3 linked regions of the Homo sapiens genome follow. The protein of the gene in region 3 interacts with the protein of the main gene of each other region in a pairwise test. Each region holds a gene or a part of one and is shown on either strand. Other genes may lie near its edges.

The links. Proteins that work in one complex are often made in the same cells at the same time.
Region 1: the proteins of MAGEC1 (region 3) and ECHDC2 interact in a two-hybrid assay, tested with the Homo sapiens proteins (one study listed by BioGRID and IntAct).
Region 2: the proteins of MAGEC1 (region 3) and ROCK2 interact in a two-hybrid assay, tested with the Homo sapiens proteins (one study listed by BioGRID).

The regions. Positions count from the first base shown.
Region 1 is NC_000001.11:52,918,741-52,925,992, forward strand, and holds the start of ECHDC2 (enoyl-CoA hydratase domain-containing protein 2, mitochondrial), read right to left. Parts: upstream 3,001-7,252; 5' UTR 2,934-3,000; coding exon 2,813-2,933; exon of another isoform or gene 1-2,812.
Region 2 is NC_000002.12:11,208,637-11,215,674, reverse strand, and holds part of ROCK2 (rho-associated protein kinase 2), read left to right. Parts: intron 1-29; coding exon 30-165; intron 166-262; coding exon 263-354; intron 355-588; coding exon 589-835; intron 836-1,211; coding exon 1,212-1,318; intron 1,319-3,834; coding exon 3,835-3,994; intron 3,995-7,038. UniProt on the Homo sapiens protein: Protein kinase which is a key regulator of actin cytoskeleton and cell polarity.
Region 3 is NC_000023.11:141,906,857-141,909,875, reverse strand, and holds the end of MAGEC1 (melanoma-associated antigen C1), read right to left. Parts: coding exon 1,043-3,019; 3' UTR 502-1,042; downstream 1-501.

The sequences.
Region 1 (7,252 bases), on a different chromosome or scaffold from region 3:
TTAATTTATCATTGAAGAAAGAAACATTTGTAAAGCAAATTTAGTGTAGCCTAGGTGTACAGTGTTATAGAGTCTATAGTAGTGTACAGTAATGTCCTAGGCCAGGGGTCCCCAACCCCCGGGCTGTGGACCCATCCCAGTCTGTGGCCTGCTAGGAACTGGGCCACACAACAGGAGATGAGCAGCTTCATCTGTATTTACAGCAGCTCCCCATGGCTTGAATTACCACCTGAGTTCCACCTCCTATCAGATCAGTGGTGGCATTAGAATCTCATAGGAGTGCGAACCCTATTGTGAACTGTGCATGTGAGGAATCTAGGTTGTTGCGAGCTCCTTATGAGAATCTAATGCCTGATGATCTGAGGTGGAACAGTTTCATCCCCAAACCATCTGTCCGCCCGCAAGTCCATGGAAAAACTGTCTTTCATGAAAATAGTCCCTGGTGCCAAACCAGTCCCTGCTGTCCTAGGCCTTCACATTCACTCACCATTCACTCGCTGACTCACCCAGTGCAGCTTCCAGTCCTGCAAGCTCCATTTATGGTAACTGCCCAGTACAGGTGTACTATTTAAAAAATCTTTTAGACTGTATTTTTACTGTGCCTTTTCTATGTTCAGATACACATTTACCATTGTGTTACAGTTGCCTACAGTATTCAGCCCGGTACCATGCTGTCCAGGTTTGTATTCTAGGAGCAACAGGCTATACACCATGTAGCCTTGGTGTGCAGTAGGCTACCCCATCTAGGACTGTGTAGGTGCACTCTGTGATGCTCCCACAATGACCACAATCACCTAATGATGCATTTCTCAGAATGTAGCCCCGTTGTTAAGCAACACATGACTCTATGAGAAATAAAGCCGCTAAGAACAGTGAAGAATGGTTTACCACCCAACCTCAAGCTCAAAGGCAGCAGGTAAAATGTAACAGTGCTCTTGTGCCATCAGCCCCAGTGGAAGGCAGAACCTGCAGCTTCTAATATGAACATCAAATGACCCCAACTCATTCCCTGTGAGGGCTCCGTGTGTGATCTCATCCCCATGCCTCCTCTGCACTGTCATCTTGGTTTCTGTCTCTCCTTCTCTCACTGCCTTTTCCTGCCCTTTGAGCCCTCTGGCAGGGGCAGAGGCTTAATCTGCTGATCCTTGTCATTCTTTTTTGGATAAAATGATTCCCGATATTTGCAAGTGAGCCTAAAGGTCTTTAACCCATGATAATTTTGTGTTTACACATGTACAAGTCTGTATTTTGAGTCACTGAATTACTAGAAGAGCCAGTGATTACCTAATGGTTGAGAACACAGGCTTTGAAATCAGACCTGGTTCAAATAACTTAACCTTCTGTGCCTCAGTTTTTTAATCTGTAAAGTGGGGAGAATAATCTTGACTGTCTTAAGAGCTGTTGCCAGTTGGGTAGTGAACTAAGCATGAGATTGGGGGTATAAGGTTCAGCAATATTAACTGTTCAAGGAAATTCTCACCAAGTGGTGCAGTGGGACTCTAGGTGGCCTGTCCGTGTCCACTGAAGGTGGTAGATGCACACTTGGGAACAGTGGGCAACAGCAGGGAGCAAGGAACTGGATTTTATGGCAAAGCCCCGCTTCAAACTTGTTGTCAAGCCGGTAAAAAGGAAGCAATACTGCTGGGGAAGGGGCGGCAGGCGCCATGTCCGGCCACGAAGGTGGCAAGAAGCCACTGAAACAGCCCAAGAATGCAGGCCAAGGAGATGGACGAGGAAGATAAGGCTTTCAAGCAGAAACAAAAAGAGGAGCAGAAGAAACTCGAGGAGCTAAAATGGAAGGCCACGGGGAAGGGGCCCTTGGCCACAAGTGGAATTAAGAAATCTGGCAAAAAGTAAGCTGTTCCCTGTGCCTAAGGAGATGGTGACCCTTTATTTCATCAGTATTTAAACCTCTCTATTCCCTGCCATAACATCTTTTGCCACCTATGGCTGGAATTAAGTGTTGTCTTGGAGCTGTTGTACATTTAAGAATAAACTTTTGTTAAAAAAAAAAAAGAAGCAATACAACGAAATGTACAGTACAATGCCATCTGTGTATCAAATGCAGGAGACAGGGGATGAGATGCGGGGAGGAGACCCAAGGCAGGAGAAGCGCCTAGCCCTGATGGTTACCAGCAGAGGACTGAGGAGCGTTATCAGCACCACTGAATGCTCCAGAAGTTCAAACAACAACAACAACAAAAACGCAACACGCGATCAGAGGCGTTTTCTGCCAGTGACCCGCGAACTTTGCCCCCCACCCCTCGTCCCCGCTCCATACTATCCTTGATCTTGGCCAAAAGGCGGAGAAACAGCGAACTTTTCCCTGGAGCCAGAAGGACGCAAAGGTTCGCTAGCGGCCCAGGGCGGGCGCGCGGCTGGAGAGGCACCCTCCTCACTCTGCCCGCTGCCGCACTGGGCACTGGGACTGGCTCCGCTGCCTCCGCCCCCGAACCGGGCCAGGACCCTTGGCGGGGGAGGGGAACGCGCACTTAAACGCTCCTGGCCTGGGGGCCGCGGGGCCCAGTCCTACCCGTGCGGACCCCGCTCCCCCTTCCACACAGTCGGAAGACCCCAAAGGGCCTTTGAAGAGACCGAGGTTGCCAGAGGCCCCCCGCCCCCAGCTAGAGTCTGGAGCCACTAAGGCGGCCGCCCACCTCTCAGGCCTGGAGCGGTTTGGGGCGCCTAGAACTGGGAGGGAGGGACTGGGGATCGAATCCTTCAACGCACTGAGCGGCCCACCTGCCGGTCCCCCGCTGCCTCCGGCCTAGTCCCAGTCGCGTCATGCGCCGCCCCGGAACTGCACATTTACCTTGGTCCGGACCCGCCAGGGCGCGCACTTGGATCTCTGAGCCCCCGGCCGCCCCGTCGGAAGCGCAGCCGCGGGCCCGAAGGGGCCTCCAGGGGCGCAGGAGGCACAGAACGCGCAGCATCGGGGCGCAGGCTGGGAGTGAAGGTGCTTCTCCGGCCCTGCACCGTCTCGGCTCCCGCTGAGAGCTCGCAGTTCCGGCGTCGGGCGAAGCCTTCGCCAATTGCTCCACCTATGGGCCAAGCGTCTGTTGCCTCCTTCCGCACCTCCCGGGGACAGGGAGACTTGAGCGGAGGAGGTCGGGGGAAGCCCAGCTCCTCTGTGTGATTTGGTGTAACTCTGTCAACCTCCCAGCGTCAGTGTTTTAATCCTGTAAAATGGGGATAATAGTGACTACCCCGTGGTGGTGTGAAGATTAAATGGGGTGTGTGAACCTTGCTTGCACATATGCTCAATTTCATTTTTTAAATGAAATGACATTTAATGAGTCCCTTGAGCGTGTCTACACTTGCGAACCTCACTGCTTCACCTCCCATTTGCGCCTCACTTTTTTTTTTTTTTTTTTTTTTTGAGACGGAGTCTCGCTGTGTCGCCCAGGTTGGAGTGCTGTGCCTTGATCTTGGCTCACTGTAACCTCCGCCTCCGGGTTCAAGCGATTCTCCTGCCTCAACCTCCCAAGTAGCTGGGATTACAGGGACGCGCCACCACGCCCAACTAATTTTTTTTGTATTTTTAGTAGAGGCAGGGTTTCACCATGACGAAACCCTGTCTCTGTTAAACATTCAAAAAAATTAGCTGGGCGTGGTGGCGGGCGCCTGTAATCCCAGCTACTTGGGAGGCTGAGGCAGGAGAATCACTTGAACTCGGAAGGCACAGGTTCAGTGAGCTGAGATCGCGCCACTGCACTCCAGGCTGGGCAATGAGCGAAACTGCGTCCCAAAAAAAAAAATTATTCTCTTAAACACAGTATATACAAAGCACTCTCACATTGCTGATGTGAATGTCTTTAAATGAAAAGCAACTGGTAATTTATATCAAAATTATAAATGCACAAGCTCATTGCCCCAGAAATTCCAATTTTAGAAATTTAACCTACAGATAAATCCACACAGCTGTGAAATGACACGTGTTCATGGCTGTACATTGCAGCATTGTTTATAATAGCAAAAGACTGGAAGCACATGGTGCTGTCATGTGCTTCTGGTGAGGCCTCAGGAAGCTTACAATCATGGCTGAAGGTGACAGGGATCCAGCATGTCACATGGCGAGAATAGGAACAAGAAAATTAGGTGGGGAGGTCCCAGTTTATCGCCAAGGGGATGGTGCTAAACCATTCACAAGGGATCTGTCCCCATGATCCAGTCACCTCCCAACAGGGCCCACCTCCAACATTGGGAATCATATTTCAACGTGAGATTTGGAGGGATCCAACACCCAAACTATATCACAGTCTCAATATCCATCAATAGAGGGTTGGTTAAATAAATTATGGGGCTGTGTGTGGTGGCTCACCCTATTATTCCAACACTTTGGAAGGCCAAGGCAGGTAGGTCCCTGGAAGCCAGGAGTTTGAAACCAGCCTGGGAAATATAGCAAGCCCCTATCTCTACTTAAAAAAAAAAAAAAGGTACATCAATAATCTGAATACTATGCAGCTATAACAAAACACAGGAAACTGTTTATGCATTGATATGAAACAATCTTCAAAATCTATTGGTATATGAAACAAGTCAAAATGCAGAATAGTGTGTAAAGAAAGCTAAAATTTGGCCGGGTCTGGTGGCTCATGCTCATGAACCTAGCACTTTGGGAGGCCGAGACAGGAGGATTGCTTGAGGCCAGGAGTTCAAGACCAACCTAGCCAACATAGCAAAACCCCACCTCTATTGAAAGAAATAATAAAGAAAACAAAAATTTGTGTTAACAAGGGGGATAAGAGTATGCATGTGTATATTTGATTGTATTTACATAAAACATCTTTGGAAGGATAGGGAAGAAGAACCGAGAGGCTGGGAATAAGGGTAAGAGAGACAAGTTTTACGGTTTGACCTGTTATACGTTTTTGGACACAGGATGTTGTTGTTGCCCAGATTGGAGTGCAGTGGCAGTATCTTGGCTCACTGCAGCTTCTGCCTCCCGGGCTCAGGTGATCCTTCCACCTCACCCTCCTGAGTAGCTGGGACCACAGGTACATGCCACAACATTGGCTAATTTTTGTATTTCTTGTAGAGACGGGGTTTTGCCATGTTGCCAAGGTTGGTCTCGAACTCCTGAGCTCAGGCGATTTGTCCACCTTGGCCTTCCAAAGTGCTGGGATTACAGGTGTGAACCACCATGCCTGGCCCCTTTTATACTTTTTGAATCTTGATTTTTGTTTTAAGTATAACTTACTCAAAATAAATAATGAAAATGAAAACAAAGCACAATAACAAAAATTAAAAACATGCCTTAGCAAAAATAAAACTAATATATACACAAAATCAAAACATACAAACTAGCCAGGCCCGGTGGCTCATGCCTGTAATCCCAGCACTTTAGGAGGCTGAGGTGGGTGGGTCACCTGAGGTCAGGAGTTCAAGACCAGCCTGGCCAACATGGTGAAACCCTGTCTCTACTAAAAATACAAAAATTAGCCAGGCGTGGTTGTGGGCAGCTGTAATCCCAGCTACTCAGGAGGCTGAGGTGCAAGAATCGCTTGAACCCAGGAGGTGGAGGTTGTAGTGAGCTGAGATCACACCACTGCACTCCAACCTGGGCAACAGAGTGAGATTCTGTCTTAAAAAAAAAAAAGAAGCAAAAACAAAACATACAAACTATAATTGGGTATAAGATTAAAAGAAAAACCTTCCCTCCTCCATATTCCATGCATTTATTGTATTCTATTTTATTGAGACAGGGTCTCACTCTGTTGCCCACATTGGAGTACAGTGGTGCAGTCAGTTCACTACAACCTCAGACTCCTGGGCTCAGGGGATCCTCCCGTCTCAGCCTTCCGAGTAGCTGGGACTACAGGAGTGGGCCACCACACTTGGCTCATTGTTAAATTTTTTGTAGAGACAGAGGTCTCCCTATGTTGCCAGGCTGGTCTCAAACACCTGGCCTCAAGTGATCCTCCCACCTCAGCCTCCCAAAGTGCTGGGATTACAGGTGTGAGCCCCCATGCCTGGCATCCACCCATTTAAAAAGATTTTTCTTGTTTTTTCTTCTTTTTTTTTAGAGATAGGGAGCTATGTTGCCCAGGTTGGTCTTGAATTCTTGGGCTCAATCAATCCTCCCATTTTGGCCTCCCAAAGTGCTGGGATTACAGGCATGAGCCACTGTGCCTCGCTGCTTTTTGTCTTTTTGTATTAACAGAAAAGGTCTCACTATGCTGTCCAGGCTGGAGTGCAGTGGCTATTCACAGGCATAATCGTAGCTCACTGCAGCCTTGAACTCCTGGACTCAAGCAGCCTTTCTGCCTCAGCTCCTCAAGTAGATGGGATTACAGTCTCGTACCACCACACCCAGCTTAAAATGATATTTATTGTATTTTATCTGGCATTTCTGGGTGTTTTTTTTTGGTATACTTATTCATGCCACAAAGTAAGTGGTACTTATATAAGTGTACAGTGATTTTCCAGGTTCCTTTCTAACATAGCTTGCTTAAATTCACAGGTCGACTAATGTTTCATTTCATGTGCATGCTAAGTGAAGCTGGTTAGTGATGACCATAAGCAGGTGGAGAAGCTTTCAATATTTTACTTATTTTATCAGTACTCCTGATTTTATAAATGATGAGGCTCATTAACCCCATTCCTACTCAAATCTCCTGATAAACTTGGTTATAATAGGGCTTCATGGGGATCCAAACATTTTTAATAATGTTTTGAAGCATCTTGGTGTGGGACAAACAGCTCAGGCTACCCCAGAGCCCCACATCCAATGACTTAGAAAAGTCTGTGTTTTATAGTGGGAAAAGTTTGGATTATTTAGTCCTTCACATTGGAAAGGGAAGTGTTTTTTCTCAGTCTTTTCGGTATTAACAAATACCTTTTATATTACTATCTATCCCCTCTGCCCTCTATGGACTCTTATTTTGAAAGCAATATCCAGTGGACAGCCAGGATTTGTTACATAACAATTAATCTTGACCTTAGGACTTGTTGTTCTATTAGGTTGGTAACTTTGTCTGATCCACCAATCATATTGCTGTCTTGTCAGTCCATCAGTTTCAAGAAACAACTGTACATGTCAGTGCCCTGATTTGTGTTTGTTTTTCTTTTTTTTTTTTTTTTGTTTCGTTTTGGTTTTTTAGAGACGTGGTCTTGGTATGTTGCCCAGGCTGGAGTGCAGTGGCTATTCAGAGGTGTAATCATAGCACATTTGTAGCCTTGAATTCCCAGGCTCAAGTGATCTTTCTGCCGAAGCCTCCTGAGCAGATGGGAGGCGTGCATCACTGAGCGC
Region 2 (7,038 bases), on a different chromosome or scaffold from region 3:
TTTGATAATAACTTTAAGCATTATTTCAGATTACCTTACGGAAAAGTGTGGAATCAGCATTAAGACAGTTAGAAAGAGAAAAGGCGCTTCTTCAGCACAAAAATGCAGAATATCAGAGGAAAGCTGATCATGAAGCAGACAAAAAACGAAATTTGGAAAATGATGGTTTGTGGTGTAGAATATTAATTACTCATCAAGAAAAAAATTAAGTGTGTGTATGTGTGTTATGCTAAGCTTGCCACTGAAATGCTTTTTATCATAGTTAACAGCTTAAAAGATCAACTTGAAGATTTGAAAAAAAGAAATCAAAACTCTCAAATATCCACTGAGAAAGTGAATCAACTCCAGAGACAAGTAGGTGGATCTAATTTGTAGTAAAGATACTGGGTTTTATTTTTAACGCGATAACATTAGTTTTAATTGACAGTGTTGCAAAAGGCCTTTACCTCTAATTTTAGAAATCATTTGGAAAATATTTTTAGGTTTTTGTTTATTTTAAATAGTTTCTAATGGGGGAATACATTGACTTATTTTCATTACATACATGTGTGTTTGTTTGTTGTTGTTTGGTTTTGAATGGAATAACAGCTGGATGAAACCAATGCTTTACTGCGAACAGAGTCTGATACTGCAGCCCGGTTAAGGAAAACCCAGGCAGAAAGTTCAAAACAGATTCAGCAGCTGGAATCTAACAATAGAGATCTACAAGATAAAAACTGCCTGCTGGAGACTGCCAAGTTAAAACTTGAAAAGGAATTTATCAATCTTCAGTCAGCTCTAGAATCTGAAAGGAGGGATCGAACCCATGGATCAGAGATAATTAATGATTTACAAGGTATTGAAGTCGTGGTTGCACTTGAATTAATTTTGATGATTCTTATTTTAAAAATAACTTTAGATGATGGATAGTGTGCTGGATTGGACATTTCTGAATATACTATTATGTAAAGTTAGAATATTAGAAATACACTGATACAAAATTTTAGGAACAAAAGATTTAATTTCAAATAGTATGATTTTAAGTATTAAACTCTTCAGGTAGTAGATTGGATTCCATTTGAATTAACTATAAAGCACAATACCAACAAGTATAAAACTTCTGCTCACAAACAACAGCTCCAAAATAGAAGGTGGCTTGCAAACTTTTTATTCCTAATTGAATGTATATACTTTGTGGGTTTAATGTTTTAAAAAAACGTTGCAATTTTTAGGTAGAATATGTGGCCTAGAAGAAGATTTAAAGAACGGCAAAATCTTACTAGCGAAAGTAGAACTGGAGAAGAGACAACTTCAGGAGAGATTTACTGATTTGGAAAAGGTAAAACATGTTTTATATTTTTGCATAAGAAAATTGACAGTAGACTTTCAGGTTAGAAAAGTTATTCTAAACTAAGGGAAGTCACTAACTGGAATATTTCCACATGCTCATGGATTCCTTTTGATTTGGACTTGATGTGTAGATAAGAGATGTATCTGCAGGCTTACCATAACACTGTACAAGCAGCCCTCAGCATGCTGGTTGCTCATGAAGTAAGGGGACCCATCCTGGAGTGTAGATAATGAGGATCTCTCTAGGACCCAAGGAAAACTCAAATTTCGACTCATAACATGTCTTAAAAATGCCATATATAAAGTCACCATGACTTTTGGCATTTAGAAGTTTTTCTTTTAAAATACTCTAAGAAAGGGATGATTTCTAGAGTCTATGCAGTTAGCATTTTATTTTCATTCACTTATTTATTTACTCAGCTAAATATTCAGTGTGTTATATGTGGTAGAAATATCAGGATGCAGTCCTTGCCTTGAATAATGTCACAGTTGAATAGTTAAGTTTAAAAGTAATAATAAAGCACAAAGATAATTCTAATGACAGTATGGCAAATAGAATGATAAGACTTATGGACAGGGTATATGTATTGGGTGTATGGGATGCATCCCTAACCTGACAGCAGGATAGGTCCGTAGGGCAAAGGCACATTCTAAGTTAGGGAGAACAGCATGAGCAAAGACATAGAAGATGGAAAATAAAAAAGGCATTGTTTGTTTTCTGGAGTATAGAGTGGGAGTCAGCAAATTTTAATCGTTTAAAGGCATGGTAATAAATATTTTATCTTCTGTGGGTTATATGGTCTTGCAACTGTTCAGCCCTGCTGTGATTCATGAAGGAATGGATGTGGCTACGTTCCAGTGAAACTTAAAAAAGAAAAAGGCATCAGGTTAGATTGGCCTGAAGATCACAATGTGGTTGTTATGTAAGGACATGAGGAATTCAGTGGTCAGAATGAGGCTACAGAGCTCGGCATGAGGTAGATCATGCAAGATAGCGAATACTCTATTAAGAAATTTTGAATGTAGTAATGGGCTAGCCACTTAAGGGCTTTAAATTGGATGATCTTATTAGAGGTACATTAAAGATAGATCGCTGTATACTGTGTGGAGAAAAGATTTGAGGAGGACAAGACTAGAGGTAGAGAGACTGGTCAGTAGACTTTTTCAGTAATGCTGATAAGGAATAATGGGAGACTTAGTACAGCCATTAAAAGGTTGGAAAAATTGGAAGACTCAGAAATATTTGGAAGAGGAATATTTGGCAGCACTTAATAGTTGATTAGATATGGCATATGAGTAGCAGTCAAAGATGAGTCCCAGATTTGTAGGTTGTGACAAGATATATAGTGATGCTGTTAATAAAGAATAAAGGAAAAATAGCTCATGAGACAGTGATAAACCCACTTTAGTCCTCTTAAGTTTGAGGGTACCTATGGGACAGCCAAATTAGCATGTCTGCACTGCAGTAGGCTATAGTAGTAGAAGTTAGAAATATTTGAGTCATTGGTATGTAAGTAGCTGAAATCATGTGAGTGGAATAGCCCATCTGGGAAAAGACTGTGTGAAGTAGTGATTTTTTTTTTTCTTTTTTAGGACAGAGTAGATTACTCTGTTGGTGGATTATGTGGTTTGAGAAATCATTTTTTGTATGAAAGGCTTTATTTGGAAAAAAGCCTTTATCATATTTATGATATGAACTATAAAAATCAAAGAATTAGAAAACCTTTGGGGTTTATGTAGAAAATAGGAGGAGTATTGGGGCTTAGATCACCAACATTTAAGGGACAGCTGGGAAAGCTTCAGGAGCAACAGAAAGGATGCAAGCAGAATGGAGAGAACCAACTAAGTACAAGGTCGGCAATGCCAAGGGATAGTTTTAAGGGGGGCAGTGAGTTCAAATAAGACTGAAAAGGGTCTTTAGAATTTGATATTGAGAATAGCATTGGTCTTTTTGTTGAGATTAAGTGAGCTTGATACAGATCTCAGAACAGCAGAGTGGTGGTGTAGACTGTTGGGTACAGTGGGAAGTAGAGAAGTAGAGTATATAGATTACTATTCTAAAAGGTTTGAGTGAAGACGGGAGGGGAAATACTGAACATTCTAGTTAAGCCTGTTAAAAAACAAGTTAAGGTTGAGCACCATGGCCCACACCTATAATCTCAGCACTGTGGGAGGCTGAGTCGGGAGGATCACTTGAGCCCAGGAGTTCAAGATCAGTGTAGGCAGTGTTTAATGAGACCTTGTCTCTACATTAAAAATAAAATAAAATAAATTAGCCAGGAGTGGTGACAAACTTCTATAGTCCCAGCTACTTTGGAGGCCAAGGTGGGAGGATTGCTTGAGCCTGGGGAGGTTGAGGCTGCAATGAGCCATAATCAAACCACTGCACTTCAGCCTGGGTAACAGAGCAAGACTCTGTCTCAAAAAAAAAAAAAAATTAGAAAGCTTTTGAAATTGTGAGCTAGTCTCTTTTTTGTTGATAGCTGCATTTTAAATATTTAATAGGAAAAAAGCAACATGGAAATAGATATGACATACCAACTAAAAGTTATACAGCAGAGCCTAGAACAAGAAGAAGCTGAACATAAGGCCACAAAGGCACGACTAGCAGATAAAAATAAGATCTATGAGTCCATCGAAGAAGCCAAATCAGAAGCCATGAAAGGTATGCATTTTTTAAAGAGGGTTTTCCAGCAGCGTCTTCCTAAGAATTGATTCTGTGTTAGCTTTTTGGTTTTGAAACATTTTTTTTTATATTTCATTGTCAAATATTGGGAATTGGAGGGAAAAAAACTATTAGGGAAGCTTTACATAGATATTCTATTATTTTTCCTTTGTATCATTACAGTAATCATTTCTAAGATAGTAAGACCCAAACACAAAATTACATGATCAGATTTTTAGATCAGAGATAAATTAATATTTCTCAATATTATATACCTGGTAATATCTGTACCACTCGGTATACGTGTATCAGTAGTAAGAAGGAATATCTGAACTTCACACGCTGTATACCTGTTACTATTGATACAGGTAATTCTTGTAATACAAGAGTTTTGTATTATAAAATTCTTGCCAGTTTATGCAAGGTAAGAATTTAAAAGTAATAGCTGGTCTAACTAGAATATAAGTTCACTGAGTATTTTGATCTCTAACATGATGAAGATACTAGCCAGATTTGGTCGAAGCCATATAATACTAATAGATAACAAAGTTAACCTTCCCATAAACTAGACTTTATCCTGGAATTGTCTTAGGATAATTTTTTCTTTTCCAAACTGACTGTTTATAATGACTCTGAAATTCCAGAGAAAATCAGTACTTTAAGCTATTCTTGTGAAAGGCTTAAAACTCTTGAACAGAAATTTATTTTCATATTGAAGCATTACATGAGTAACTAACTTAGAAAAAATAGCCTTTTAATTATTGCATGTAATTAAAATGGTAGATTTTCTTAGTAAAAATCAGTGTAGTTTAAGGCACTAAATCAGGATGATAAGAAATGAAATGAGTACTTTATTTACAAAAATCTAATTGTAAGGGAGAAAGTTACTGGGCCATATTTCCTTGTCTGTGGCCTAGAAGACAGAGTTCAATTATTTTCATTGAGGTATAATTTACATGCAATAATAAAATGTAAACATTTTTGACATTTCGTGATATGCTCACATAACTACTGTTCAAAACAAGATAAAGAATATATCAGGCTAGGCATGGTGGCTCACATCTGTAATCCTAGCACTTTGGGAGGCCAGGGTGGGAGGATCTCTTGAGCCCAGGAGTTTGAGACCGGCATGGGCAACATAGCAAGACCCTATCTCTACAAAAAATAGAAAAATTAGCTGGATGTAGTCGCGTGCGCCTATAGTCAGAGCTACTTGGGAGTAGGACTCTCAGTATTCCTGCAATGATGCAGGAACATTGCTTGAGCCCAGGAGTTCAAGGCTGCAGTGAGCCATGATTGCATCACTGCACTTGAGCCTCAGTAGCAGAGCAAGACCCCATCTCAAAAAAAAAAAAAGGACTATTTTCATTATCTCAGTAATGCCTCTTTCTATTCTCAATGCCTACATTATGGTGATTGTTTTTTTTGTTAAATGAGGACATTTGTTTAGTGATTATTCTCTGAATTGATAAAAATGAACCAATTCAGTATTAACTACCATTTTTTTCAAACTATTAAAACGCTAATGTAAGATACATGATGACTTCCATATTTTACACATGAGTACACAAAACTGTTACATATTATAGATGGTTTCAAATCTGAGGCTAAAGCCTTTGGTCCTTCTGTTGCATGTCATTGGCTCCTTGGATTAAGAACATGGCTCACCAAATAATTACTAGCTATGTGACCTTGTCTAGTTATTTAAACTTTCTGTGTCTTGTTTCCTGTGAAGGGACAATTACAGTATTGTTACGTTGTTGTGAAAATCAAGTGCAATAAAACATGTAAAGTGTTTAGAAATGCTATTATTAGTACTACATGGGGAATGTTTCATTTTTCTGCACTTTTGAAGACCATTCATTAAACACTAAATATTCATAGGTTTAATTTTTACCTAATACAACTTTATAATAGATGATAATTAGATGTTGAGCATTAATTATGAAAAAGCAGAGGAGCCTTAATTGAATGTGAACTGAAGTACTAACCAGTATATCAAGATAATCCTTTAACTGTGATGACTTACATTTAACACTGAAATCACTTGGAACTTTGCCTTCTGATAAGTAAAATAGATTAAAAATTTATTGTAAATAATTTAGAAAACACAGGAAAGTATAAAGAAAAAAGCAAAGATTACTCATAATCCTATGAGTTAGGATACTATTTTGTAAATTTTCTCCACTTTCTATACCGTTTTGCTTTTTAAAAAACAAGACATTGTGAGCGTTTCCTTGGTCATTAAAAATTCTGCTTAAATAATAAGCACTTACCAAGTGCTTGCCATATGCCAGGCAGCATTTAAGTGGTACACATGTATTAAATCTTCACAACCTCCCTAGGTGCTGTTATCCCTATTCTGGAGATAAGGAAACAGGTCCAGAGAGGTGAATTACTTGCCCAGTCAAACAGTGTTAGACCCAGGGTTTAAGCTCAGAAAGTTTGGTTCCAGAGTCTTGTCCTTTACCACCTCCCTAAAACATATTTTTCAACACCTGCATAATAATGTGTTAACATGGAAAGTCCTATGGAGATCATAGAATCTACCTGGATTGTTTTAAGGTAAAAATAGTAACACTGAGAGACATAGAATAGCAGTAAGCAGTAGAATATAAGAAACCTTTGTTTAAAGATGTAAGCATCTTGTAGAATATAAATAAAGGTAGAACTATCTTGCTTCCATTAGAATAGATGTAATATTGCAGAGTGTGATACATTTTTACACCCTGTGAATGAAACTCCTAATTTTCAAGTATGAAAGTGAAAATATTAAATTGAAAATTAAGGCCAGGTGCAGTGGCTCATGCCTGTAATTCCAGCACTTTGGGTGGCCGAGGCGGGTGGATTGCATGAGGCCAGGAGTTTGAGACCAGCCTGGCCAACATGGCAAAACCCCATCTCTACTAAAAATACAAAACTTAGCTGGGTGTGGTGGCACACGCCTGTAATCCGAGTTATGTCTGGAGGCCGAGGCACGAGAATTGCTTGAATCCAGGAGGTTACAAAGAGCTGAGATTGCGTCACTGCACTCCGGCCTGGGC
Region 3 (3,019 bases):
TGCAGATGATGGGTATCAATCACCTAGTCCTTGCACTGTGTTCAAGCTCACCAGTTACAGAGCCACAGAACACCTTCCATTAATTCTCCGTGTGGAGACTCCTCTCTGATTCATCCTCCACCCAGAGGGAACTGCTCAAGTGGTTTTCCTTTCCAGGCTTTTCTCTCACCTTCTGAGAGTCTGGGCCCTGCCACCACCCAGCTTCATAACGATCAGCTCCCACAGAAGCACCTACAGTTGCCCAAAGCCCAAAACTGCCTTAGCTCAGGGCCTTTTTAATCAAAGGCTCCATCTGGAGTCTCACCTCCCCACTCCTTTTTAAACTTATTCTTTAGATTGTAGAGAAAATCTTACCACATTCCTGATATGGCTTCTGGACCTACACTCTACCGTTTTAGGGTTAGGGATGAGTCTTGCTTTTAATGGTAACTTCACTACTAACAGTAATTTCTATGAGCAAATGCTGATACAATGTTCATCAAATAAATGAGTCACTGACACTTTTATTTATTACAGTTTACTTTCTTCTACTTTCTTACGTAAGCCAAGCAAACCAGGTATGTATCTTTAGTTTTCAAGAACAACAGACTAAAGGACCTGAGGAAATGCAAACATTAACAATCCTTTACTTTATTCCACTATTTAACTGCAGAGTTCCTTCACAGTTTCAAGAAAATTCCTACAGTAACACCACATTAACCTGTGACACATCACAAAATGAGGCAGAAGGTTTTCCCAATGTGGTGTGTTTGGGTGTGTTTTTGTTTTTACAAAATATCAAACTGTTACTCTTAAACCAGAAAAACAGCAATACATGTGCGACTCATGTGCATAAACTAGGATTCTGAAGCTATTTAAACCTGTTATTAATAGGAAAAGCATTTGAAAAATACCCAAAAGTAAAACAGGTAAACCCCATAACTACCCATATGGAACAGAAATGCAAATAGCACTGTGTTCTCTCCAGCCTCAACCAGGCCCTCCACCACGTAGAAACTCGACTGCCCCCTTCAAACTCAGAGGGAAGAATCTGCCCTAGACTTCACTCAGAAGAGAAGCTGGGGGACATGACACTGGAGCTTGCACTTTCTGTGGCAGTCGAATCATCTGTGGTGTCAATTATGGCCTGGGCTCTCTCTTCCACATCTTTCAAAGCATCCTTGTAAGAGGATGGAAAGGTAATAGGGACGGTATTCTTTAGCATGGCCAAAAACTCTACTACTTTCCTCTTAATGACTTCTGAATGAGCTCTTGGACCCCACAGGAATTCGTAACGAGGAGGAGAAGAGTTGGGCACCTCCCGGTACTCTAGGTAATGTTCCTGCACCCAAACTTTAGTGAGGAGCTCCCTGGGCTCCCCAAAGGCAAAGTGCTCCCTCCCAGCACGCACCCCTATTCCACTCAGCACATCCCAGATGACCTCCTCAGAGGCATAGGTGCCCTTTATGAAGATGATACTCAGAATAAGAATCAGGAGGCGGTTCTGGGACATGCCCTGCTCATCACTCAGACACCCCTCAGAGGTGAGGTCTAATGTGTTTACAAAGACATAGGAGTCATCAGGGTCCACTTCTCTCAGGGAAATGCCAAAAAGTATCTCTATGAACTCACGGGCTTTCCTGAAGATCACAGGAAAGTAGCCCGTGTACCTGCTGATGACATTCGTCAGCATCTCTGCCTTTGTGATAGGCTGCTTCACTTGATATTTGAGGAGAAGAAACCGCGCCAACTCGTCCACCTTTTCATCCAGTGTATAAGTGAACAAGGGCTCGCTCTCTATCAAGGACTCGCTGTCTGTCAAGGAATCACTCTCTAGCAAGGTGTCTGAGGAACTTGTATATTCATCTACTGGGCTGCTGGACTCTTCACTGAATGGGCTCAATGAAGTGGAGGAGGAGAAGGAGATCACAGGACTCTGGAGAGGACTCTCAGGGGAACTCTTGGAAAGACTCGATGAAGTGGAGGAGGGGAAGGAGCTCACAGGAGAACTCTGGGAAAGACTCGATGAAGTGGAGGAGGGGAAGGAGCTCACAGGACTCTGGAGAGGAGACTGGGCAGGCCCCTCAGGAGGACTCTGAGGACTCTCATGGGAACTTTGGAGAAGACTCGCTAAAGTGTAGGAGAAGAAGGAGCTGACAGGTCTCTGGAGAGGAGACTGAGCAGGCCCCTCAGGAGGACTCTGAGGACTCTCAGGGAAACTCTGGGGAAGACTCAAAGAAGTGGAGGAGGAGCAGATACTCACAGGACTCTGGAGAGAAGACTGGAAGTCCTCCCCCTGAGGAGGAAACTGAGGAAAGTGGAGAGGAGAGAGGGAGTCCTCCCACTCAGGAGGACTCTGAGGAAAATGGAGAGAAGACAGGGAGTCCTCTCCCTCAAGAGGACTCTGAGGAATTTGGAGAGGAGACAGGGAATCCTCCCCCTCAGGAGCACTCTCAGGACTCTGGAGAGGAGATTGGGAGTGCATCCCCTCAGGAGGGCTCTGAGGACTATGGAGAGGAGACTGGACAGGCCCCTCAGGAGGACTCTGAGAACTCTCAGGGAAACTCTGGGGAAGACTGGATGGAGTGGAGGAGGAGCAGATGCTCACAGGGCTCTGGAGAGAAGACTGGAATTCCTCCCCCTGAAGAGGACTCTGAGGAAAGTAGAGAGGAGACATGGAGTCCTCCCCCTGAGGAGGGCTCTGAGGAAAGTAGTGAGGAGACAGGGAGTCCTCCCCCTGAGGGCTCTGAGGAAAGTAGTGAGGAGACAGGGAGTCCTCCCCCTGAGGAGGGCTCTGAGGAAAGTAGTGAGGAGATAGGGAGTCCTCCCCCTGAGGAGGGCTCTGAGGAAAGTAGTGAGGAGACAGGGAGTCCTCCCACTCAGGAAGACTTGGAACAATCTGGAGAGGAGAATGGGTATTCTCCCCTTCAGGAGGACTCTGAGGAATCTGGAGAGGAGACTGGGGAAAACCCTCAAAAGTACTTTGAGTACACTCAGGGGAACTCTGGAAAAGACTCAATAAAGTGGAGGAGGAGGAGGA